Regions from separate parts of the Homo sapiens genome. Here all the other regions are linked to region 1. The links come from fine-mapping of genetic effects on gene expression. A gene starts in region 1. Each other region holds a variant in brackets. All regions are shown on one strand. Distances are between the middles of the regions.

What was found. PIP is the estimated chance that this variant, and not a neighbour inherited with it, causes the effect.
Region 2: its variant is fine-mapped to the expression of TMEM51 in whole blood (INTERVAL, PIP 0.96).
Region 3: its variant is fine-mapped to the expression of TMEM51 in whole blood (INTERVAL, PIP above 0.99).
Region 4: its variant is fine-mapped to the expression of TMEM51 in whole blood (TOPMed, PIP above 0.99).
Region 5: its variant is fine-mapped to the expression of TMEM51 in whole blood (INTERVAL, PIP above 0.99). The same link has a PIP of 0.9 or more in blood mononuclear cells.
Region 6: its variant is fine-mapped to the expression of TMEM51 in whole blood (INTERVAL, PIP above 0.99).

The regions. Positions count from the first base shown.
Region 1 is chr1:15,151,596-15,155,683 of GRCh38, reverse strand. It overlaps TMEM51 (transmembrane protein 51), which reads right to left and starts at 1,937. Exons shown (of 4, transcript NM_001136218.2): 1 at 1,730-1,937. It overlaps TMEM51-AS1 (TMEM51 antisense RNA 1), which reads left to right and starts at 3,220. Exons shown (of 5, transcript NR_027136.1): 1 at 3,220-3,393. RefSeq lists enhancers at 432-1,093, 1,225-1,314, 1,094-1,755 and silencers at 1,465-1,644, 1,735-1,784, 1,845-2,114.
Region 2 is chr1:15,181,487-15,185,574 of GRCh38, reverse strand. All of the region lies in intron 1 of TMEM51 (transmembrane protein 51), which reads right to left. Among named protein-coding and RNA genes, the nearest start is that of TMEM51-AS2, 12 kb to the right of the region's middle. The variant T/C (reference allele first, on the strand shown) is at 1,868.
Region 3 is chr1:15,213,809-15,217,896 of GRCh38, reverse strand. It overlaps TMEM51 (transmembrane protein 51), which reads right to left. Exons shown (of 4, transcript NM_001136218.2): 3 at 2,466-3,002. The coding sequence starts at 2,809. Among named protein-coding and RNA genes, the nearest start is that of FHAD1, 31 kb to the left of the region's middle. The variant G/A (reference allele first, on the strand shown) is at 2,335.
Region 4 is chr1:15,208,369-15,212,456 of GRCh38, reverse strand. It overlaps TMEM51 (transmembrane protein 51), which reads right to left. Exons shown (of 4, transcript NM_001136218.2): 2 at 1,895-1,967. Among named protein-coding and RNA genes, the nearest start is that of FHAD1, 37 kb to the left of the region's middle. The variant T/C (reference allele first, on the strand shown) is at 1,902.
Region 5 is chr1:15,242,925-15,247,012 of GRCh38, reverse strand. It overlaps a transcript of FHAD1 not described here. Among named protein-coding and RNA genes, the nearest start is that of FHAD1, 2.3 kb to the left of the region's middle. The variant A/G (reference allele first, on the strand shown) is at 1,983.
Region 6 is chr1:15,229,251-15,233,338 of GRCh38, reverse strand. No RefSeq gene overlaps it. Among named protein-coding and RNA genes, the nearest start is that of FHAD1, 16 kb to the left of the region's middle. The variant G/A (reference allele first, on the strand shown) is at 2,068.

The sequences.
Region 1 (4,088 bases):
CTTCCCCAGCCCAGCACACCCCAGGCACTCTCCTGTCGCTGTGCCTTTGCCTGTGCTGTTCGATCTGCCCAGACACCCTTCCTCCCCTGTTCCCTGGGGGGACTCCAGTTCCCTGATGAATATTCTAATACTCTTTTCTTAGCAGGACCTCCTGAGTTATTTCCTTTCTTCTGTTCTCGTCTAAGCCCTGTGACATAACTTACTATAGAATACTTCATGTGCTAGGCATAAATACCCCACCTCGCCCTTGGAGATCATCATCCCATTTTACAGATGAAGAAGCTGAGGCTCAGAGAGGTCAGGTCACACAGCCAGCAAGTGGTGTGGCCTGACTGTATCGCCAATTCTGCAACACTTTTCATGAGTATCCCTGACTCCCTCACTAGGCTGGGGGCTCCCTGAGGCTTCTGGGCTCTGGGTCACTGGGGCAGGCCCCAGACACCCCATCAGAGAGCTGTCAGCTCCGAAGCCGTGAGGAGCAGGTTCACCACTAGCCTCCTCTCTCTTTCTTTGGCCTTTTCTCCCAGTCTGGGGGTACCTCTCAATTGGTGGAGTGAGATATTTGGAGGGGCAGGGGCTCTGTCCCAATAGGTCAGGATCCTCTTGTGACAGGTTTCCGGGGTGTGAAAGCTGTTCACGGTCCCAGGGCCAACAGTTCCCTAGACAAGCTGTTCTCCGGGTAACCCATTCAAAAGGAAAGCCAGAAGCCGGCCGGTCCTAGAGGGGAAAGCCTTCCACCCGCTGACTTACCTCCCGGTTCGGGTCCCTGCCCCGCCCACCTCGTCCCCGCCCACCCCACTCCGGCAGCGCCCGGGTTCCCAGCAGCCAGACCTCCCCTGCTGTTGGGAAGGACCCGCAGTCCCATGCACCGTCACAGGCACCTCGGAGCGCTGCGCAGGACACCCCACGGGCTGCTCCCTGGGGAAACCGTGGGGGAGGGGCCAGGTCTCTCGCCCCCACCGCTGGTTGGGAAAGAGACCATTATCCTGTAATGCAGACCAGGCGCGCCGGGCCAAGCGCCTCCCGTTTGTGCGCTGATTTGAGATCTGATTTGTACTCTGCTCTCCCCTAGGCCCGGTAACGTAACTTACCGCTGAGTGCTTGCTGGGTGCTGGGCATGAATGCCCCGCCGCACCCTGGGACGTTGTCATGTCAGTTTCACAGATGAAGAAACCGACGCGCTCAGGGAAGGACTCGAGTTTCAATCCACTTTGCTCATGCCCGATTCTTTACCCCCGTGTTTGCTTGTAGAGCGACACACACACATACACACACACGAATCTAAATCCCTAAAAGGCCCCGACTTCCATACAGTAAGGGATGCGCGAGCAAAGCGCCAAGGTGGTTTCCTGGGACCTACTGGGAAGTTCTGCTCCTAACCACGCGCTGAAAGCGCTTCTGGCGAAGCCAAGGGTTCGAAGCCCGCCGGGCGGATAGCACCTGTTCCCGCCAACAGGGGGCCCCCAAGGCCAGCTGCCTTCCCCAGCCGAGGCCAGCTGGCCAGGCGCGGTGCCCGGGAGGCGGGAGCGTCCCGCGCCGGCGGGGCGCGGCCGCAGAGGGTGCGGGGTGCGGAGTCCTCCCGGTGGTCGACCCCAGGCGGGAAGCGCTCGGCGGACAGACGGACGGACAGGAGACCCAAACGGGCCTCGGCCCCCTTACACGGCCCTGTGGGGAACCGACAGCGCGCCGCGGGAAGCAGCGGGCGCAAGGCGCGGCGGCTGAGACTCACCCGGGAGGCGGCGGGTCCGGCTCCGTCTCGGCTGGGCGGTCCGGGACTGCGGGCTTCGCGACCCCCGCGCCCCACCCGGGCGGCCTCCTCGGTGGGCGCCGCGATCGCGGGGCTGGGGTTCGGGGGATTCTTAGCCGAGGGAACGCAGTGGTGGAGAGGGCGCACTGCCCTCTCAGGGACCGGGTTGGGGACGCAGGAAGCGCGGCCTGGGAGCGCCGGCGTGCGGGAGGGAGGGACCGCGGGAGGCGGAGGGCGGTGCCGGCCAGGAGCGGCCTCCAGCCCGGAGAAGCACCGCCCACCGGCCGACCCTCCCTCCCGGCCCTCGGCACCACCCCCGGGCCCGAGGCGAGGGATCGCAGCTGAGCGAGGCGGGCACCCACTCCCCAGCGTATGCCGCTGGAGCGCGCTGAGCGTGTGCCGGGGGCTGGGCCTAAGTTCTCCCCAACCCTTGCCAGCCGAGTTGGATAAGAGGGGGTCGGGAGAAAATAGAGCCCTGATCCCCCCTCCTCCCTAGGGCCCAGAGAATCGGTGTGCATGCGTGTGTGCGCGCACGCGCGTGTGTGTGACGGGTGGTGGTCGGGGAATGTCTCAAGCTAGAAGTCCCAGGTTTTAGGGGTTTAAGTGGAGCTGGGAGACCCGCTTTCCTCCCACACCAGGCGCAGACGCCGAGGCACAGCTCCGCCAGCCGCCCCGCCTTTACCTGGCGGGATACTCACCTCTCCTCCTTCCTGGGGAGGCCACCGCCTCCCTCTCCCCCTTCTGCCCTGGGCTGGTTCCCAGCGAGGTGAGTGACCGGCACAAGTAGGGAAGGAGGAAGCGAGTTTTTAAAAACTGAGTCAGCTCACGCCCTCGGCCAGGGTCCCCACCCGATGCGTGGTCCCCAGGGCGCCCTCGGGATCGCACGCCCGAGTCCCGGCCCAGGTGGGGCCCATTCCGGGTTCTTGCGCGCGGGCAATGGATGGGGGCGCGCTGCACCGGGAGCCTGCCCTGCTGAGGGCTCATCCCCAGCTTTGCCGAGAACTTTCCCGGCGAGGCACCGGCTGGCGTTTTCCCAGCCTGCGAGTGGCAGGCGGGCAGCCAGTCTCTGCTCGGATCCACGGAGGCCCGGAGCCGCCACGGAGTTCTGGCTCCGGGGAGTGCAAACCCGAAGTCGGCGCGGAAGCCTCTCACCCGCGGCTCTGCCTCCGCCCCTTGGAGATCTGCCCTCGGAACTGCGTTGCTCTGGCGCCCGAACTAGGGTGGGCTGGTTTCAGCCAGACCGCCAAAAAACGTGGATGCTAAACACAGAGGGAAGAGCCAGCTCCCATTCCCTCTCTGAGCCTTAGATTTTTTTGAATTCCGAGAGAGGTCAGGCCGGGGTCCCCTTCTTGGGTGAGCGTCCAGCCCTTTGAAGTTCAAACACTGAGAAGCCGATAGGCAGCTGGCTGGCGTCACAGGATCGAGCCGAGGACTGAAGGCGCCTCCTACCGGGAATCCACCGCCTCCAGACGAAAATAGGCTGCAATCAAGTTCACTTCCAAAGGCGGAATTCATGGGTACATATGGTGTCCACGTGTGTACACCTGCAGAGTTGTAACATGCGGGCATTTCTCCCCTCAGCCCGCCATTCTGGCTTCTTAACTTGCACCCTAACAGCTCGACAGAACCTTGGCGTCCACAAAAAGGCAAGTTTGGGTCTGCCTTATGATTTGGGGGTGGGAAGGCATTTGGGGAAACAGTCTCCATGTCTATGACAGCAACTGCTATTCCTCACATCCTTGCTATGAACCAGGGGCGGGGTTACCACCCACATCCCCTGAACCATCTCATTTAATCCTCATAACCTAGGAGGCGGTTATTTGTTATGCCCACTTTATAGAAGAGAAGGCTGAGGCTTAAGGAGGTGAGGTCATTTTGCCCAGTGAAAACACAGCTGGGAAGTATCAGGATCTAGACCCAAGATGATCCACTCCAGAGCTTCTGCTCTCCCTCCCATAGCATAATTCCTCCTGTCTGCACATACTCTCCACCCTGAGAGAATGTTCACCTTGCCTGGCCACCTGCAAATGCGGAATAAACATTTGTTGGATGAATGAAAGCCCTAAATAATAACCCATGATTTTAGTGAATAGGGAGGACCCTTTGTGTAGGCAGGTACCTATAATAATATGCTCCCATTTAAGAGCTGTGCGTATTCATCCCAAAGTTTAGACAATGCATGTGGGGACCTTCCCAGGCTCCAAAGGAGTGACAGGAAACAGTCACGTAGCTCTCAGATAAGACCAGGAATCTGGTTTTCATTTGACTCTGCAAGATGGACTTTGGAGAGGCCTGGGGTGGGGGCGGGGGGTGATCATGTCAGAACAGCTGTCCCAGCTCC
Region 2 (4,088 bases), 30 kb before region 1:
AAGCCATAACCGTGTATTAAACTGAAAATCTGAAATTAATATCCCAGTAAATGAAGAAGAGACTACTTATTATAAGGGGATTTCCCCACTTCCAAGAAGTATTGGGCCTCAGTTTTCCCACCTGTACAGTAAGAACTTGGGTAGGACTATATTATCCCAACATTTCTTCCTGCACTGAAATTCTCAGGTTTCATGAGTTAGTCCCAGTTAGAGAAGGCTGCCTAGGTCACAAGGATAGCAATTTTTGGAAAGTTCTTTGGAGAAAAAGAAAAAATATCACAACTGATAGAATGAATACAGTTTTGGGCAATGTGGCAGTAACCTTCCCCATGGGGTAGGAATAGAACAGATTTGACAAAATGAACAGTCTTTTCCTATGGTGGGCTCAGGGCTCCTAAGTTTTGAGCATTTCCCAAGCATTACTTCACCGGTGAGGTGGCTTATGGGAAATCTGCGTATACGCACAGAACAAAGTCTGGACCATCAAGCACACTGGGAACAGTAGTTATCTTTGGGGTGTGGGGGTCAGATGGGGGTGGGGCAGGCAGGACATTTCTGCCTTCCTGTACTTCTATGCAAGGTTTCTTTCCCCTGGCTCCACTGACATACTGGCAGATAATTCTTTGTTGGGAGTGCTGTGCTGTGCAATGTCGGTTGTATAACAGCATCTCTGGTCTCTACCTACTAGATACCAATAGCATCTCCCCAGCTGGGGGCAACCAAAAATGTCTCTAGACATTGCCAAATGTCCCACGCGAGGGCAAGATCACCCCTGCTTGAGAGCTCTATACTCTATACTATTGAGTTTTAAAAAATTAAGATAAGCACATATCTTATATGATGATGGATGGCTTTATTTAACACCTCAGCAAGTGTGGTTGATTTTACCTGTCCAAAGGTTTCAAATCCACCTACTTCCTGCTTCTGCCATCACTACCACCTTTGTCTAAGCCACTGTCACCTGGACAACGATATCAGTTTCCAACCTGGTCTCTCTGCAGCTGCCCTGGCCCTAGCAAGTCTTTACGCAGCAGCCAAAATGAGCTTCTAGAAGCATCCTTCAGTCATGTCACTCCTCTGCCTGGCTTCCTACTATCCTGAGAATAAAATCCAAACTCCCCACTTGCCTTCAAGGTACTCTGTCGTCTGGACCTGGATCCACCCTCTGCCCCCTGTCCTCTGCTAGTCCCTGGCCACTCACAGTGTGGTCCTGCAGTGTCAACAGCCCTGAGAGCTGGTGAGAAAGGCAAGGCCAGGCGTGGTGGTTCACACCTGTAATCCCAGAATTTTGGGAGGCCGAGGTGGGCGGATCACGAGGTCAAGAGATCAAGATCATCCTGGCCAACATGGTGAAACCCCGTCTCTACTAAAAATACAAATATTATCCTGGTGTGGTGGCGCACGCCTGACTCGGGAGGCTGTGCAGGAGAATCACTTGAACCTGGGAGGCAGAGTTGCAGTGAACTGAGATCGTGCCACTGCACTCCAGCCTGGTGACAAAGTGAGACTCCGTCAAAAAAAAGAAAGGCGGAAGGAAGGAAGGAAAGAAGAAGGAAAGGAAAGAAGGAAAGAAAGAAATGCAGACACTCAGGGCCACCCCGGACCTGCTGAGTTGGATCTTGCAGGAGGCACGTGCACCTTCATGTTTGAAATGAGCGGCTGCGGCCCCACTGTCCTTCTCGCTGGCTTCTTCTCATCTGTCACTTAAATGTGACCTCCACAGTGAGGCTTTCCAAACCGGACATTTGCAAGTAGTTGTCCATGCAGTTCTCTGTCTCAGCATCTTGCTGGTTTTGGACATAGCTATGACCACAACATGTAATCATCTTGTTTATTTATGTTATTTGTTGCCTTGCCTGTTTCTATG[T/C]CCATAGCCCACATCCCTGGTGTAAGCTCTATGAAGGCAGACACAGGGCAGATGGCACCAAACACACAGAAGGCACTCAGAAAATAGTATTGGAAGGAATACTAGCTACATATATTGTGCCTTTACTATGTGGTAGTAAGTTTTCTTTACAAGAATTATCTTCATGCAATCTATAGTTATCTTGTTTATTCTTCATGCAACCTATAGGCGAGATAGATACCATGTACGATAATCTCCCTTTTACAAATGAGGAAATGGAGGCAAAGGGACATAAAGTTTTGCAGCTGGTAATCGGCAGAATCGGGGTACCTGGGGCTAGGTGGGGAGTGATCTTGCTCCCATCACTGTACCTTTTACCTCTGCACGATACTGCCTTATTTGTAAATCAAGTAGCATATTACGCACATGACGGATGCATAACATTGAAAGGAATTTCCTAGTGAATGCTTCTATAAAATAAAGAATTCTGCTGTTGGGGGATATTTATCCCTTGTGTGCTTTTTTGGTAAATGACATCTTGGATTCAGAATCTGTTTAAGCAAAGTCCATAGATCCATATGTTCCCAAAGAGTGTTGATTCTACCAGCAGACATAAAACAAGTCCAACAGGGAAGATGCTGGGGCTACTCAAATTTAGAAGCCATTGGCTGGGCGTGGTGGCTCACATCTGTTATCCTAGTACTTTGGAAGGTTGAGGCGGGAGGATCACTTGAGGTCAGGAGTTTGAGACCAGCCTGGCCAACATGGTGAAACTCCATCTCTACTAAAAACACAAAAATTAGCTGGGTGTGGTGGCAGGTGCCTGCAATCCCAGTTACTATGGAGGCTGTGGTAGGAGAATCAGTTGAGCCCAGGAGGCAGAGGTTGCAGTGGGATGAGATCACGCCACTGCACTCCAGCCTGGGTGACAGAGTGAGATTCTGTGCCCCCCAAAAGAAGAAACAGTGGATATTTCTGTGTCCTCTGTCAGGCTGGCCTTCCCTCCTCACAGCCACCAGGTAAATAATCTTTTAGCTTTGGGGATCCAGTACTTTCCTTCTATGGCCCTTCTTGCCTGTCCTCTTTCTTGCTCCCAACTGCCTAAGGTACTTATTTCCAGAATTTAATATGCAGGACAATCCATTTAGATAGAACATGGGGCCTCAATTTTGCAAATGAAGAACCTGAAGCTCAGAGAGGTGAATTATTTGCTCAAGGTCACACTGCCAGTTGGCGAGAGACCCAGAGCTTGAACAGCTCAACTCGGAGTGGTCCTGGTATACTGATGATCACATAAGCTGAGGCTTGCTGACGCTGTGCCAAAAGCTTGCCTGCTTGATCTTACGACAGTCCGATTGGGCAGGCGCCATGGCTATGTCCATTTTACAGATGAGGAGACTGAGGCTCACAGAGGAAGAGTGACACATTCTCAAGGTCATGCAGCCAAGAAGAGAGCAGGGATTTGACTCCAGAAGGGATGCTCTTATTATGTACTGCCATTCTGCTTTCAGCCTAGTGCAGTTATTTATTTATTTATTTATTTATTTATTTATTTATTTATTTATTTGAGATGGAGTTTTGCTTTTGTTGCCCAGGTTGGAGTGCAATGGCGCAATCTCGGCTAACTGCAACCTCCACCTCCTGGGTTCAAGCGATTCTCCTGCCTCAGCCTCCCGAGTAGCTGGGATTACAGGTGCACACCACCACGCCCAGCTAATTTTTGTATTTTTAGTAGAGACAAGGTTTTGCCATATGGGTCAGGCTGGTCTTGAACTCCTGGCCTCAGATAATCCACCCACTTTGGCCTCCCAAAGTGCTGGGATTAACAGGCGTGAGACACCACTCCCGGACAGTCACACATTTTAAATTTATAAACCAGCCCTCGTGGAGTTTCATGCAGGCAGCCAGACGTCACGGTTTGATGGTTCACCTTTTATTTTTGTTTTCAACCCAAAGAAAACAGAGCAGCTTGAGAAACCCATGCTGTGGTTCCCACAACACAGGCAAAACACTAAAGCAAGCATACAAAATAAATAAACAGAAAGGTTGTTTGTTCACCTTGAGCCCCGTCTGGTCGAGAACCTGCTGCCATGACCTGAGAGCCAGGGCTGTGGGGTGGGAAGCTCATCGTTTACTTAGACATGACGGTAACCATCAGCCCGAATCTCTTGCAAGGGAGTAAAGAAAGATGGTTAGGAACCGAAGCCTGGGAACGAGGCTTTGAGTTTTTAAAAATGAGAGA
Region 3 (4,088 bases), 62 kb before region 1:
TCAACCTGACTGGCCATGGTTGCCCATATTAAACACTGTGAGAGTGAGGGTGTTTCTGGAAGATACTAGCATTCAGCTCGGTGGGCTCTGTAAGGCAGATTCCCCTCCTCAGTGTGGTGGCACCATCCAACCCATGGAGGCCCTAGATAGACCCAAAGTCAGAGCAAGCAGGAATTTGACTCATTTCTCCCTGCCTCACTGCTTGAGCTGGGACATCTCATTTCATCTTCTCCTGCTCTCAGACTAGGATCTATACCCTCACCTCTCCTCGTTCTCAATCAGGCCTTCAAACTCAGAATGAATTATACCCCTTGCTTTCCTGGGTCTGCAGCTTACAGATGGCAAATTGTGGGACTTTTTGGCTTCCATGATCCCAGGAACTAATTCCTCATAATAAATCTCCATTTAAAAAAATATATATCCCCCTGGTTCTGTGTCTCTGGAGAACCCTGACCAATACAGCATATATTATTCTTTGCTATCAGAAAATGAGTTTAATTTGGAAATTGTATTTGTACCCACTTACACCCACTTTCAATTATGTGCAAAAGTAAGAAGTGGGTTAATGTAAATTGAAGGGCAAGCTATTTAGAACATTCTAGGAAAGGGATGGTAACTTCCAGGTCATTACCATGGAAAGGGGTGGTAACTGGTAACATTGGAGGGCAGAAATCCCTTCAATATAATGAGATTTTTTTTTCTTCTGGTGTGTACCCACAAGTGGCATTGCTGAATCATTTGGCAGCTCAATTTTGAGTTTTTTGAAGAAACTCTAAACTTCTCCACAGTGGTTGCACTAATTTACATTCCCACCATTAGTGTACCAAGGGTTCCCTTTAATCCATATTACATTAAGAACAATTCCCTTCCCACTATAAAGATAAGAAATGCTTGTAGAAAATTCAAACAACACAGAAACATCTAATGAAGAAAAGAAAAACATCCCGAATCCTTCTACCTGGAGACAAACCACTGTAACATTCTGGTGTATACCTTTCCTACCCCTCTCCAATCCCACAGCCACAACATTTGATGGGACCATAACCTGACCAAAGATGCTGTATTATATCCCCCTTTTCTCATTGTTGTGGATATGGTCCCACATTAACAAATATAGATCAACAGTTGCTGCATAGAACTCCATTGAATAGGTACGTCATTTAACTCAGTAGGTGGTTTTTTAGGTTGTTTCTAAGTTTTTGTTATCCTAAACAATGATCTGATAAATATACTGGTACAAACTCCTTTGCACCTGTGGGACTGTCTCCCAGGGATAAACTCTTATAAATAGGATCAATACGCACATCTTCAGTACTGCCCCTTATGGTGAAACTCTTAAGAAAGTTTCTATCAGTCAACATTTCATCAGCAATCCATCTTCCCTACAACTCTCCAACAGTAGGGGCTGTCTATCTTGATCAATATGATAGGCAAAAAAAAGAAAAGACATCTTTTTGCTTGCATTTCATGACTAATGAAGTTGAACATCTATTGGTTGAACATCTATGGAATATTCATAATCTTTGTCTGTTTCCTATTGGTATATTCATCTTACATATTCATTTCTAAGAGCTCTTTTTATAATAGGGATATCAACTATTATCATATCTTCCCCAATGTATCACTTATCTTTTAAATTTGTTGGTGGCATTTTTGCTCAAATGGAAAATTGCTTCCCAGCCATTTCAAATTAAAGCATACACACAGCATGCTGGGGTGAAGGGACAAGCAAATATGCTGGCCACCCCAGGCCCTGTTCAGTGACCCTGGGCGGGTCAAAATGCTGGTTCACTTAAGAGTAATGGCCTCCAGCTCCATCCAAGTTGCTGCAAAAGACAGTTTTTTGTTTTTGTATTTTTTTTTTTGAGACAGAGTCTCACTCTGTCACCCAGGCTGGAGTGCAGTGGCGGTATCTCAGCTCACTCACTGCAATCTCCACTCCCCTGGGTTCAAGCGATTCTCATGCCTCAGCCTCCCCAGTAGCTGGGACTACAGGCATGTGCCACCATGCCCAGCTAATTTTTGTATTCTTAGTAGAGACAGGGTTTCACCATGTTGGCCAGGCTGGTCTCAAACTCCTGACCTCAAGTGATCCACCTGCCTCGGCCTCCCAAAGTTCTGGAATTACAGGAGTGAGCCACTGCACCTGGCCCAAAAGACAGTATTTTGTTCCTTTTTATGGCTGAATAGTATTCCATGGTGTAAAAATCTATTGTAATAAAATTTTTAAAAAATCTTGGTTTACCTGTAATCCATTTGTACCATGCTATTTGGGAAGCTCTGGTAGAAAAGTCTAAAGTTATTTGTAAAATGATAAACCGTTTTGACAGAGGC[G/A]TCATGGGCGAACATGGGACAATAAAGCCTGTAGATGACAGTCTTTTCACCACGGAAAGGTGTGAACATGTGTGTGCATGCGTGCGTGCCCATCCCCGATCCGGGGAGGGAAGGGGACAGTCAGGCCTCACCTGTCTTCCTCCTGGGCGTGAGGCCCAGCGCCTGTCGGGTGCTGGACATGGGCCAGGTCCTCGCCCTGCCGCTGCTTCCTCTTATCCCTGATACTCAGGCAGATAGAAAGCAGCAGCAGCATCACCCCGGCCCCGACCAGCACGTAGGCCACAGAGAAGGTCTTGCTCTTGAGGATGCCGCCACCCACCTCGGTCTTGTTGCTGCCCTGAGCTGTTGGCTTCTCGGCCGCGCTGAAGCCGGGTACCAGGTTCCACATGGCCATGATCACCCCAAGGACCAGCATCCCCAGGCCGATGGCGGTCAGCGCATAGTGCGAGCCATTGGCCTTGGACTGGGCCATCATGTCAGTGGGAGGAGGGCGAGGCCCAGTTCCAAGAAAGAAAATAAATGTATACAAGGCAGCAGTCACAACAAAAACCCCTTAAATGCGCTCCACAAAATCTCTCGCCCCACACTAGAAAATATCAGCTGAACTCCTGCGGGATGGTTCCGAGCAATCGCGAGGCCTCCCGTGCGGATGGCTGCGGTGGAAGGGCCTGGAAGGAAAGCAGAAAGAGCAGAGAGGACGATCAGTTCCGATTCCAGACGCTTTGTGAATGTGGCGGCTCTGCTCTTGAAGGAGTTAGGCAGCAGCACCGAGCACGCCGGCTCTGGCTGGGCCTCGCCTTTGATGCATTCCAGATGTCTTACGTGCTCAGGCTCCTTGTGCGAGGCTGCGAGAAGGGAGGCCGGTCTGCCCAGCCCGCTACTCCCTGAAAAGGAAAAGCCAGACCTTTCCCTGCTGGAGGCCAGAAAGGTCGGAGCTCAGGTCATTAAAACATTGTGTGGAATTTAATGAAGTGCAGTAAAATCGTAGCTCTTGCTGGAGGCTGCTGGGAGAGTGAGCGATGGGATGAATGGTCCACAATCGATGGTTGTAACAGACTCACCTGGGGGACAGGGCCTCAGCCAATGGTATGACCAGGCCAAACAGCCTACTGTCATCTGTTCCCCACCCTCAATGGCTCCCTACTTCCTGCAGGAGAAAATCCAGCTTCTTAGAATGATGCTGCTCATGGTGGCCTTAGCCTGGCTCCTGCCTCTCCTACTGCATGTCTCAGCCTGCCTTTCTTTGCACTACCCACCCCCAACCACCCTCCAGAACATTTCTCTGGTCACCCATAGCTCAGATGCCCCTTTCATGTGCTCCCCAAATCCTCCAGCAACCACCGTGGTGAGTCTCTCTCTTCCCATGACCACATTGTCATCATCTCTAAGCCTGGCACACAGCAGGGACTCAAAAAATGTTTGCAGAGTTCATGCCTGTAATCCCAGCACTTGGGGAGGCCGAGGTGGATGGATCACGAGGTCAAGAGATCAAGACCATCCTGGCCAACATGGTAAAACCCCGTCTCTACTAAAAATACAAAAAAAAAAAAAAAAAAGGCTGGGTGCTGTGGCACGTGCCAGTAATCCCAACTATTTGGGAGGCTGAGGCAGGAGAATTGCTTGAACCTGGGAGATGGAGGTTGCAGTGAGCCGAGATTGTGCCACTGCACTCCAGCCTGGGTGACAGAGCAAGACTCTGTCTCGAAAAAAAAAAGTTTGCAGAGTCAATGTTGGATGAAATGAATGCAGGCCAC
Region 4 (4,088 bases), 57 kb before region 1:
GATTTGAGCCGCTTTAACCCCCTCACTGCCTGCCCTCATTCGTTCTCCATTCCAGCTTTGCCTTATGCTGCACGAGAGAAAGACAGGCTCCAGATGTGAATCATGGGCAGAGATTAAAATGTCGGGATTAATACATTCTTTTTGTCTGATAAACTGTCAATGATTAAAAACAGGTGATAATACTCAGTGTGGGGAAAGGTATTGGGATGGCAATTTCATGGCATTTTTTTAGATGGCAAGTTTTGGCATTTATAGAACAAAAGTTTCAAAAATGTTTATACCCTTTGGCTCTATAATTCCAACTTCTAAGAATTATGTACAGAGATATCATCACAGCTTTATAGTGGTGAGAAGCTAGAAATTACTTCAATAGCCAATAATCCAGATCAGGGTAATAAATTATGGTTCACGCACTTAAGGAAATTATGGTCTCAAAGCAGCTAATGTATTTTTAAATCAAACAACAAGATTGAAACAACAGTGTGTTCAGCGTGATTCTAATTTTTAAAAAATTCTCCATACACAGATGAATATATGGGAAAAAGCCTGGATGATTGTACTTACATTGAAATGAAAGAGACAGTGTATTTTTATATATACACACGTATGTAAAAATCCCGGGGGGGGGGGGGGGGTCACCTTTCAGACTTGTACCATGATTGCTTCTGGGGACGAAGGAAACTCGGAAAGTGTACCCTTTACTTTCTATTTCTCTCTTTTGAATTTTCACAATCTGATTGTATTGCTGCAAGGTAGCATAGCTGAGTGGTTAAGAGTGAGCTTGGGACCCAGGCTTCCTGGGCTCACATCCTCACTCTATTCCTTCACAGCTGTGTGACCTCGGGCAAGTTACTTAACCTCTCTGTGCTTCAGTCTCCACAGCTGTAAAAGGGAGACAAAAACTCTCTAGTACCTACCTCATAGGGGAGTTATGATAAATAAATAATATACATAAAGCACCAAGAACAGTATGTGACCAGCACAACAGTAAGTTCTTAAACAGACAAAAAAAATTGTTATTTAATGTTAATTAGAGCTTGTATTCTCAATGGGGTAAGATCACCCACAAGGAGCAAAAATTGTTTCTTGGGGACAGGGTGAAAAAAATCTTGGATATTATAATGGTTTGTGGCCCTCCACAGGGCCACAGAATATAAATAGATACACAGGGCATCCTTGGCATTAAATTTTCAAGTATTCCAAAAAGAATGTCTAAAAAGACTTCTCAGGGAGGGCAAGGTGGCGGAAAAGGTTGAGAAACACTGTTGAATGTATCATACTAAGTTTCACAACACTCGGATTATATATTATGATATTTATAGTTATTTTCTGTGTGTGATGGGATTCACCATGATTTTCATTTTCTTTTTCTTACTGGGAGAATAAGAATTAGAAAACAGAAATATCTATGTGTTGCTTTCATAAAATAGTTTTGGTTTTTTGGGTTCATGGCAGGGTTATGTGTGCAACGGTGGCGTAGATTTGTTCTTCAAGTTCAGCCCTCTCTTTGGGGACTGTGATCTTGATGGGTCTATGGGGTCTGTAGAAACCCAGCTCCCAGCGGGGCATCTGGTCAGCTGTTTGTCCTGTTCTTGGCTTGTTGACCCTGGACAGCACCCGAGCTATATTTAGCATGGTGTTCTTTTCCTTTTAAAAATATGGAAAGAAGCTAATTTTATGCTTAGAGGATTTGGACCACACGGCTTCCAATATGTCCCTAAAACACAGTAGGCTTGGTGGGCAGTCTGGGGTCCTGGCTTGGCCAAACTCAACCTCTAGACCCTGGGGTTGGCCCCATCACTGCTCATGTCTGAGGAGGCCCTAAGGGAGGTATGAATGATTCTATATCTGAGTTTTTAAAGAAAAATTATTAACCAGTTAGAGAGGTATCTACCTGTTGT[T/C]ATTTGAGGAGACTCAGGGCAGGCCAGAAGGCAACTCTTCATGCTAGTCTTGAGTTAAAGATCCACCTATAAAAAAACCACAGAGATGCAGCTTTCTAAGCAAGCTGTGAGCATTGCAATTGGAGTTACATGTTGGGGAGCCATGTGTTTTCTTTGTTTTTTAGGGGGAAAAGGGCAAGGGTTAGGGTAGGTATCTATGCAAGACAAGTGGTACCAGAAGAAGCCAGAATTCTGTACAAAAAAATATGAGTTGCAGAAGGATGACAACATGGTAGCTAACATTTATCAAACTCTTTCATGGTATTATCCATCTTAGACATGTGCTCCAGAGAATATCAGAGGAAATACTCTCAGGTCATCTTATAAGGAATGTATATACCTTGACACCAAAACTAGAAAAGAACAAGGCAGGAGAGGAAAATGACAGGCCAGTCTGACCCACCAGCCTAAACAAAAATCGGCAAATGGAATCCATGCTTCCCTCCTTCCCTCCCCGTCTCCCTCCCTTCCTCCCTTCCTTCCTTCCTTCCTGAGTCTTACTTTTTTGCCCAGGCTGGAATGCAGTGGTGTGATCTCAGCTCACTGCAACCTCCGCCTCCTGGGTTCATACAATTCTCCTGCCTTAGCTTCCCAAGTAGCTGGGACTACAGGCGCACACCCCCACACCTGGCTAATTTTTGTATTTTTAGTAGAGACGGGGTTTCACCATGTTGGCCATGCTGGTCCGAACTCCTGACCTCAGGAGATCCTCTTGCCTTGGCCTCCCAAAGTGCTGGGATTACAGAAGGGAGCACCCAGCCCAACCATATTTTTTAAAAAGATAACACATCATAATCAAGTTGGGTTTATCCCAAGAATGCAGGGTTTGGTTCAACATTAGAAATTGGTCCCAGGAGAAAGGATAAACCACAACGTGTCACTCTGTGGAGTATTACGTACGCAGCAGTGAAGGTGAGTAAACTGCAGCTGTGTGCACCAGTGAGGATGATCCTGACAAACATAATGTTGAACAGAAAAGCAAACTGCAGAAGAATACACACTGCAGAAATCCACTTAAATGAAGTTCAAAACCAAACAATATGTTGCTCTATTTTTGTAATATTAGGAAGAAACGCAAAGACTATAAACTAAAATTCAGGACAAATTCAGGCTACCTTCTGGCCAGGCACAGTAGCTCACACCTGTAATGCCAGCACTTTGGGAGGCCAAGGTGGGAGGATCGCTTGAGCTCAGGAGTTCGAGACTAGCCTGGGCACTATAGTGAGACCATGTCTCTACAATAATAATAATAGTAATAATAATAATAATAATAATAATAATGAGCCCAGTGTGTGGCTCACACCTGTAGTCCCAGCTACTTGGGAGGTTGAGGTGGGAGGATCTGCTTGAGCCTAGGAGGTAAAGCCTGTAGTGAGCCTTGAGCACGCCACTGCACTATAGCCTGGGTGACAGAATGAGACCCTGTCTCAACAAACATAGAAACAAACAAACACACACACACACTACCTCCTGGAGAAATGAAGAGTGAAGAATAGTACTGGGGAGGCGAACAGTGAAGGGTACATGAGCGTTTTATTATACTATTCATTACAATTCACATATATCTTATATATACTCTTTTGAATGACTGAAATAGTTTGTAACAAGAATGTCCAAAAGCCCATCAATGTGTTTTTATTACTTTTAGCATAAAATCCAAACTCCTTGGCCATGACCCTCAAGCCCCACCAGCCTGGACGAGGCTCCTGTCTTGCTGTCACAGCTCATATCTCCTGCTCACCAGCCCTCAGTGGTTTCCTTTCTGCTCCTCATTGGCACCAACTACTTCCTACCACAGGGCCTTGGAACTTGCTATACCTACTGCTTGAAAACACCCTTCCACCTGTCTCTTTTGTCTGGCTACTTATTTATTTATTTCTGTATTTAAAATTTTTTAAAAAATTATTTTAGAGACAGCATATTTCTTTGTCACCCATAGCTCACTGCAGCCTCGAACTCCTGGGCTCAAGTGATCCTCCCGCCTCAGCCTCCCAAGTACCTGGGATTACAGGTGCACACCATCACACCCAGCTAATGTTTTAATTTTTAATCTTTTTGTAGAGATGGAATCTTGCTGTGTTGCCCAGGCTGGTCTTGAACTCCTGGCCTCAAGCGATCCTCCTGCTTCGGCCTTACCAAAGTGCTGGG
Region 5 (4,088 bases), 91 kb before region 1:
GAGATTTGATTCAAGAATCCTTTCCATTACCCCTCACTGTAAGCTGGATGCGTTGAGGGAGGGTCGGGGGCGATAGGGAGAGGTAGGAGATTGATGGAGCTGAACTCATGAGACCCTTGGAGGTTAGTATGCCCCCTGCCCTACCCAAATCTCTAGTCCTTTCCGTTACAGGCCAGAAAATAGAAAGAGTAAGAAGAGGGGATCTCTGGGAGTGGGGTGGGGATTGGGAAAGGGATGGGGTGGAATGAAAAATTTTGAAAGAATGAGGATTTCTTCCATGTGCTGGGGAAAAAATATTTCCAAACTCACAATCCTGCTGCCTCTGCTCCTCCCTGTTAAGAGTGACATTTATTCATTCTTTTGCCCTTTCTCTATCTCTGCAAACATCTTTTGAGTCCTATGAGTGTCACACGCTGATCCCAGAATACACCTGGAACAGTTACTGTCCTTAAGAAACCGCTTGTCAGCCGGCACAGGACTCGCGGGATGGAGTGTGTTGAGCAGATGTGCAAATCCTATCTCCCGCCACTATCTCCAGCAGGAAATCCTATCTCCTGCTGACTCTACCTGGAGAGTGATTCCTTTCACTGGCAGGAAATGGCTGACCAGACACCTCAAGAAAAACTCTAAACGTTTTTCTAAGAGAGATGAACTATGGCACATTCTACCCTAGTGATACGGTTTGGCTGTGTGTCCCCACCCAAATTTCATCTCGAATTGCACTCCCCACGTGTTGGAAGAGGGGCCTGGTGGGAGGTGATTGAATCATGGGGGCAGACTTCCCGCTTGCTTTTCTCATGATAGCGAGTGAGTTCTCATGAGATCTGATGGTTTAAAAGTGTGGCACTTCCCCCTTTGCTCTCTCTCTCTCCTGCTACACCATGTTACAACATGCTAGCTTCCTTGCTTCCCCTTGGCCTTCCGCCATAACTGTAAGTTTCCTGAGGCCTCCCTAGCAGTGCAGAACTGTGAGTCAATTAAACTTCTTTTCTTTGTAAATTATTCAGTCTCAAGGAATTACTTTATAGCAGTGTGAGAACAGACTAATACACCTAGTCAATAGGAAGAGGATCTGAGAGAGAAATCATGGACATCGATTTGTGGTGGAATATACAGTGAAGATGCTCAAACGTGCCTGGAGGCTTTTAGAAATGCGGACTTCTGGGCACAGACCCCAGAGATTCTGATTTAGCAGGCCTGGGACATAATCCAGGAATGTGCATTTGCAACAAGCTTGACAAAACCCTGATTTATGCAGCTGAACTGCAGAGACCTCTCCCGGAGCCTGTCCCTACAAATCTCTTCCAGGCCCTCAGTCTGGAAGGTTCTGCCTGGATCAGTTTCCTACAACCAGAAAGATTCTAGGCGTAAAATGTTAGGAGGGACCACAAGGGCTGGGACCCAAGTGATGGCTTCACAGGAACAGAGAGGGTCAAGCTCAGCTTCCCACACGTTTCTGCCTCAGAGCCTTTGCTCTTGCCCATTCCTCTGCCTGGAATGCACTTCCCCTCAAGAGTCTCCTTTGCCTTCTTTACTTTAGCTTTTTACTCACATATCATCTTTTCTAAAATTGGTTTTTTGAAACAATGAAACAACCACCATGAAATCTAATAAACAACAAAAAAGAGCAAATAAAAACAATAAGAACAGCAAAAGCAAATAAAAATAAGAACAACAAAAGCAAATAAAAATAAGAACAACAAAAGCACATCCAAACAAAATAAAAACCTCAACACTCTATCCCTCTTCCCTTCTTTTTGCCACTTGCTATAGTTAGAATATTTGACCCCTCCAAATCTCATGTTGAAATTTGCTCCTCAGTGTTGGAGGTGGGGCCTGGCGGGAGGTGCTTGGATCATGCGGGCGAATCCCTCATGGATGGCTTGGTGCTGTTCCTGTAGGGTGCATGAGTTCTCACTCTATCAGTTTCCTAAAGAGCTGATTGTTAGAAAGAGCCTGGCACCTCCCCCTCGCTCACTCTC[A/G]CTTCCTCTCTCATCATGTGATCTCTGCACATGCAGGCGCTACTTTCTGCCAGGAGTGGAAGCAGCCTGAGACCCTCACCAGAGGCAGATGCTGGCACCATGCTTCTTGTACAACCTGCAGAACTGTGAGCCAAATAAACCTCTTTTCTGGATAAATGACACAGCCTCAGGTATTACTTGATAGCAACACAAATGGACTAATACATCACTTATCATCAACTCACATACTATTTCTTTATTTATTTATGTTATTTATTGTGTCTCCCTCCCTGACCCCTGGTAGAATCTAAACTCCATGAAAGCAGGAATTTCTTTTTTCATGTTTTGTTTGCTGCTGTGCCACCAGTCCCTAGAACAATGTCTGAATGAATAAATATGCAGGGGGAAGCCCCTGCCACCCTTCTGAAGCCCGGCCTCCTGTCCTCTGAGGACTGCTGGGCTGACCTGTCCTCGCCCCAGGATGTCGGCTTCTCTAGTCCCCTGCCCAGGCCTGAACACCACCTCCATCCCTACCACCACCCCTCCATGCTTGTCTTTGGTCAAACTCTTGTCATTAACATGAACCCAGGACACAAACTTGCTATCAGACAGACCCCAGTGAAACCCAGGCTGGCCATGAGCTGGAACAGCCCATGCCCCTCACCAGGCTTTGAGAGATCATCTGTTGCTGTTAGCTGATATCTCAATGAAAAACAAAAAATCCTAAACTGAGAGCAAAGCTGACACTCAGAATCAGTGGAGCCGAAGTTGCCAAATCTTAATTGGATCCTCTGTCCCTCAGGATGCCACTGTTATCTCAAGGGTGTGCAAAGTTCTTGAAACCCAATTCCGTATCATCCATTTTCATTTCAAAAACAGAAAATCAAATACCCAATAACTTAGGGTTTTATGATATAATTTCCTGGGCTGAGTAAGAGAGTTGTACATTGCAATTAAACAGTGATGCGGCATTAAAAATACTGTCCCTGAAAAAAAAAAATAGATGTTTCTAGATTACTTGTGCTTCTTGGCAGTGCCTACAGTTAACCTTTTATTGAACTCTTGGTGACGACGAAGCCCATATTGTAGGAAATAAGGCTCAGAGACAGGGAGAAATCTGCCTAAAGTCACACAGCTAGAAAATCTGGCAGGATTTGAATCGAGATGAATGTGACAAGGAAGGTATTTCCCCTGGGGAACTACAGGTGACAGCTGTCACAATCACAAGATGCCACTTACTCACAACTGCTTTCTCTCACTTCTGAGCAGCCTGCACTCTTGTCTGTCCAAAGGTTCAGGCAGTGCCCAGGGCAGGGAGTGAAGGGGGCATAAGCCCAGAGGAGGCAGCTTAGGCCTGCCACCCACATTACCTGCTGACATTGGGCACTAGGCTTCGTTCCTGCAGAACTTCTGCCCCCGTAAAATCTCATTCCTTCCCAGCCACCTTCTCTGGGCTGTTCTTGCCTGGGGAGAGCCTAACCCTGTGCTCCATCCTCAGAGAACTGTGTGATGTTTCTCCTGCTGCCCTTGCATTCCAACATGAAATGAATGCTGGCTTCAGGCCCCAGCCGCGGCCAGGAGAGGTGTGGAGGCTTCCTCAGCCTCTATGGCATGAAAGAGAGCCAGAGAAAGAGCAAGAACAAGAGAGTAAAGAGTGCAGGAAATAGCCAAGCTGTTGCGCAGGGTGACGGATGACAGAGAGCAGAGGGCCCACTAGAGACTCCACGGCCCATTAGTAACCTGACCATATAAGCTTAGAAAGTACAGATTTTTATATACAGACCTACACACAGAGACTCATGAAAATAATTTCAAACCATGGAGAGAATAACTGGCAACTGAGGCTTTCTGCAGCCATCCTTGCCTTTTCCCGTGGCAGAAAATGAGAAAATATGGAGCTTCGTCTCATGTCGACTCTTTCATGCTGGTTTGGAGCATTCAGTTATCTTGCAAATCATTTTTCAAAGTCAGTTCCCCTTGGTTCCTTGCGCTTTGCTGTGGGGGGGTCTGTCTGTACCATCCGTTCAAAAACTGCAAAGTGTGCTGGCCCCACCTGTCCTGGGCCTGGTTTTTGTTGTATTTTGTTTGTGCCTCACTTCCCTCACCTGTAAAATGGGTATACAACAA
Region 6 (4,088 bases), 78 kb before region 1:
ACTGACAGTGTGGCAGGATCCATACTCCAAACCTCGGCATCATGCAGTATTCCCATGTACAAATCTGCACATGTACTCACTGTGTCTAAAATAAAAATTGAAACTAAAAAAAATGCTGGTAGTTTGGGGGCTAGAAGTAGCTAGAAATCAAATTAATCTTCACGTCTGCATTAGAAATGTCTTATAGAAGAGAGTTATAGTTTTTAATATAAACATATTGCTTCTCTATGGAAAAAAATTGGGGTTTATAATGGAGTTTTTTGAAACATACAACACAAAAGTAGGGAAAAGAGTACCATTAACCCCATGTACCCATAATCCAGCTTCGATACTTCTCCAATCTTGTTTTATCGCTTTTTTCTTCCTTTTTGATTAACTTCCTTTTGGATTAACTTAAAACACATTGTGTCATTTCATACATAAATACTTCCTGACTAAAAGGAGCTTCCCCACCTTTATGACATTATTTTCCCCATGACATTATCACACTAGCAATACTAGTAACAGTTCCTGAATATCGTCTAACATCCATCCATGCTCACACTTTCTTGATTCTCTGAGAGATGTCGTTGTATTGATGATTTGTTGACATCGGGATCTAGACGCCATCCACACGTTGTGTTTGGTTGTTATGTCTTTGAAATATTTTTTATTCCATAACAGCATCCCCTACCTTTTTCATACCACTGATCGGCTGGAGAAACTGGGTGTTTCGTCCTATAGAATATTCACACCATAGATTTGACTGATTGCTTCTTCATAGTTTCAATTAACTTATTCCTCTCTTCCCCATGTTTCCTGCAAACTAAGAGTGAAATCTCGAGGCCTGATGAGATCTGGTCTTCTTGTTGTCAAGACTACTTCATAGGCAGGCTGTTTGATTCCTCCTGTGTCACATCGTGGACATGTAACATCTTGGTTGGCCCTTTTTAATGATGCCAAGATGGCTAGGTAGGATCAGTGCTGACAGGCTGATCTGTCCATCATAAAGTTCTCATCAAATTTTTCTCCAGTGACTTTTAATTTTTATGTTTAATTTTTTTTTGAGATAGAATTTTGCTCTGATGTCCAGGCTGGAGTACAGTGGCAAGATCTCGCCTCACTGCAACCTCCGCCTCCTGGGTTCAAGTGATCCTCCCACCTCAGCCTCCCAAGTAGCTGGGACTACAGGTGCACACCACCATGCCTGGCTAATTTTTTTACTTTTAGTAGAGACAGGGTTTCACCGTGTTGGCCGGGCTGGTCTTGAACTCCTGACTTCAAGTGATCCTCCTGCCTTGGCCTGCGAAATTGCTGGGATGACAGGCATGAACCACCAGGCCCAGACAGTTTTTATTTTTAATTGTGGTAAAATACACATAACATACAATTTACCATGTGAATCATTTTTAGCGTACAGTTCAGTAGTGTTAAGTACATTTACATCATTGTGCAACCAACCTCCAGAGCTTTTTCATCTTGCAAAACTGAAACTCTGTACCCACCAAACACTAGCTCTGTAATTCCCCTTCCTCCCAGGCCCTGAGAAATATCATTGTACTTTCTGTTTCTATGAGTTTGGCTATTCTAGATACTTCGTATAAGTGGCATCACACAGTATGTGTGTTTGTGACTAGCTTATTTCACTCTGCAGAATGTCCTCAAGGTTCATCGTGTTGTAGCATGTGTCAGAATTTCCATCTGTTTTAAGGCTGAATAATATTTCATTGTATGCATAGACTATATTTTGTTTGTCCATTCATTCATCGGTGGACACTTGGGCTTATCAACATTTTTTTTTTCTTTTTTTGAGATGGAGTCTCCCTCTGTCACCCAGGCTGGAGTGCGGTAGCAAGATCTCGGCTCACTGCAACCTCCACCTTCCAGGTTCGGGCAATTCTCCTGCCTCAGTCTCCTGAGTAGCTGGGACTATAGGCAAGTGCCACTATGCCTGGCTAATTTTTTTATTTTTAGTAGAGATGGGGTTTCACCATGTTGGCAAGACTGATCTTGAACCCCTGACCTCAAATGATCCTCCTGCCTCGTCCTCCCGAAGTGTTGGGATTGCTGGTGTGAGCCACTGTGCCC[G/A]GCCTCATCAACTTTTTACCTAATAGTTTTAGCATTCTTTGAGGATCATTCCCTAGCTCCATTCTTTCCTTTGAGGTTGCAGAATAGTGATCTTTCTGATATTCCTTTGTTAATTATTGCTAGAATTCTTCTTCATCAACTGTCAATGCATTTTCTTCATCAACTATTATTATTATTATTATTTTTGAGACAGGGTCTCACTCTGTTGCCCAGGCTGGAGTGTAGTGGTGTTATCATGGCTCACTGCAGCCTCAACCTCCTGAGCTCAAGTGATCCCTCCATCTCAGCCTCCCAAGTAGCTGGGACCACAGGCACACACCACTACACTCAGCTAATTTTTAAACTTGTTGTAGAGACGCGGTTTCTCCATGTTGCCCAGACTGATCTCAAACTCCTGAGCTCAAGCATCCTCCAGCCTAGGCCTATCAAAGGGTTGAGATTACAGGCGTGAGTCACTGCGCCTGGCCAATTATATGTTTACCGTAAAACACAGTTTGTTCAGGAAAGGCAGAATAAATGATGGATTCTTTCCCTTTATGTATCAATATTCACAGTAACAAGCAACTTCCCAAAGTGACCAATGAGTTTTTAAAAGTATCATCAGGAATATTTGATTTGGAATTATGTAGATGTGTTTCAATCCATTGAAGTCACTATTTGGTTTGATGCTCACATGGTGCCAGCATCATGGCATTTGGGTTGGTTCTTGTGTTGTTTGTTTTTCTGGGTGGAAACAACTTAATATTTCATTATAATCATTTGTGTTTGTGAAGCATTACTGTGGTCTTTAGGGAAACATCTTTTTACTCGGTTTTCCTTTCCTGTACAAGGAAGCTGAGCAAGATGAACTCTAGAAGCATTTCTCTTTAAAATTCTACTTTTTATAGCATTTTGTAGCATATAATTTAACTCATTTGATTCTCCCAGTCTTGTGGCCCAACGCAATAATCAATATTTCGTTTTTCAAACATGGAAATTGCCGCTCAGATGACAATCTTTTTTTCCACTTCTCCATACTACATTCTCCCCGCAACCCCCCGTAGCCAGTAGACCTAAAGCTTCAGTTTGTACAGTTTTTAACCACGGGCATTTTGCGCCCTGACCCAGGCCCCCAGGAGACTTTTGACAATGCTTCGGGACATTTTTGATTGCCACACCTGGGCAGTGCTTCTGGCATCTAGTGGTGGAGGCTAGGGATGCTGTAAACTTCCTGTAAGGAACAGAGCAGCCTTCCACCTAGCCACGCCTTGCCCCATGTCAGGGTTACCCAGCCCAAAATGTCAATAGTGCCAAGGTTCAGAAACCCAGAGTTGAAGCAATACACAGAGATAAAATCATATTCCATTTAATTCAGTGTTTATTCACTGGAGGGGTGTATGATAATGTACACGTCTATGAAATTACTACCCAGGAAGTAGGAGCAAGGGATAGTCTGCCTTCAACATATGCGTAGGACTTAGTCAATGGTGTTCTTCTCCTCCTCCTCCCCCTCTGGTCTTATTCCTGGTTCCTATATTGCCCCGTGAGACCTTTCTATTATTGGCCTAAGGGAAGATGAGTGGATGATTTTTACTACTTTCAGCCATTGGAAAAATTTTAGGCATTAAAACTTTTTTAACTGGAAAAATAAACATCAAAATCAAGGTTTATTCCAAATAGCAGCTAGAATGTTTGTACTGATTTCTCCTTGCCAATTTTTTTTTTTTTTTTTTTTTTTGAGACAGGGTCTCACTGTGCTACTGAGGCTGGAGTGCAGTGGTTCTCCGTTCTCTGCAAACTCCACCTCCCGGGTTCAAGCGATTCTCCTGCCTCAGTCTCCCAAGTAGTTGGGATTACAGGCGTGCACTACCACACCCAGCTAATTTTTGTGGTTTTAGTAGAGACGAGGTTTCATCATGTTGGCCAGGCTGGTCTCGAACTCCTGACCTCAAGTGATCTGCTCACCTCCCAAAGTGCTGGGATTACGGGTGTGAGCCACCACGCCCGACTCCTCCTTGCCATTTTCATGGATTCAATGAATG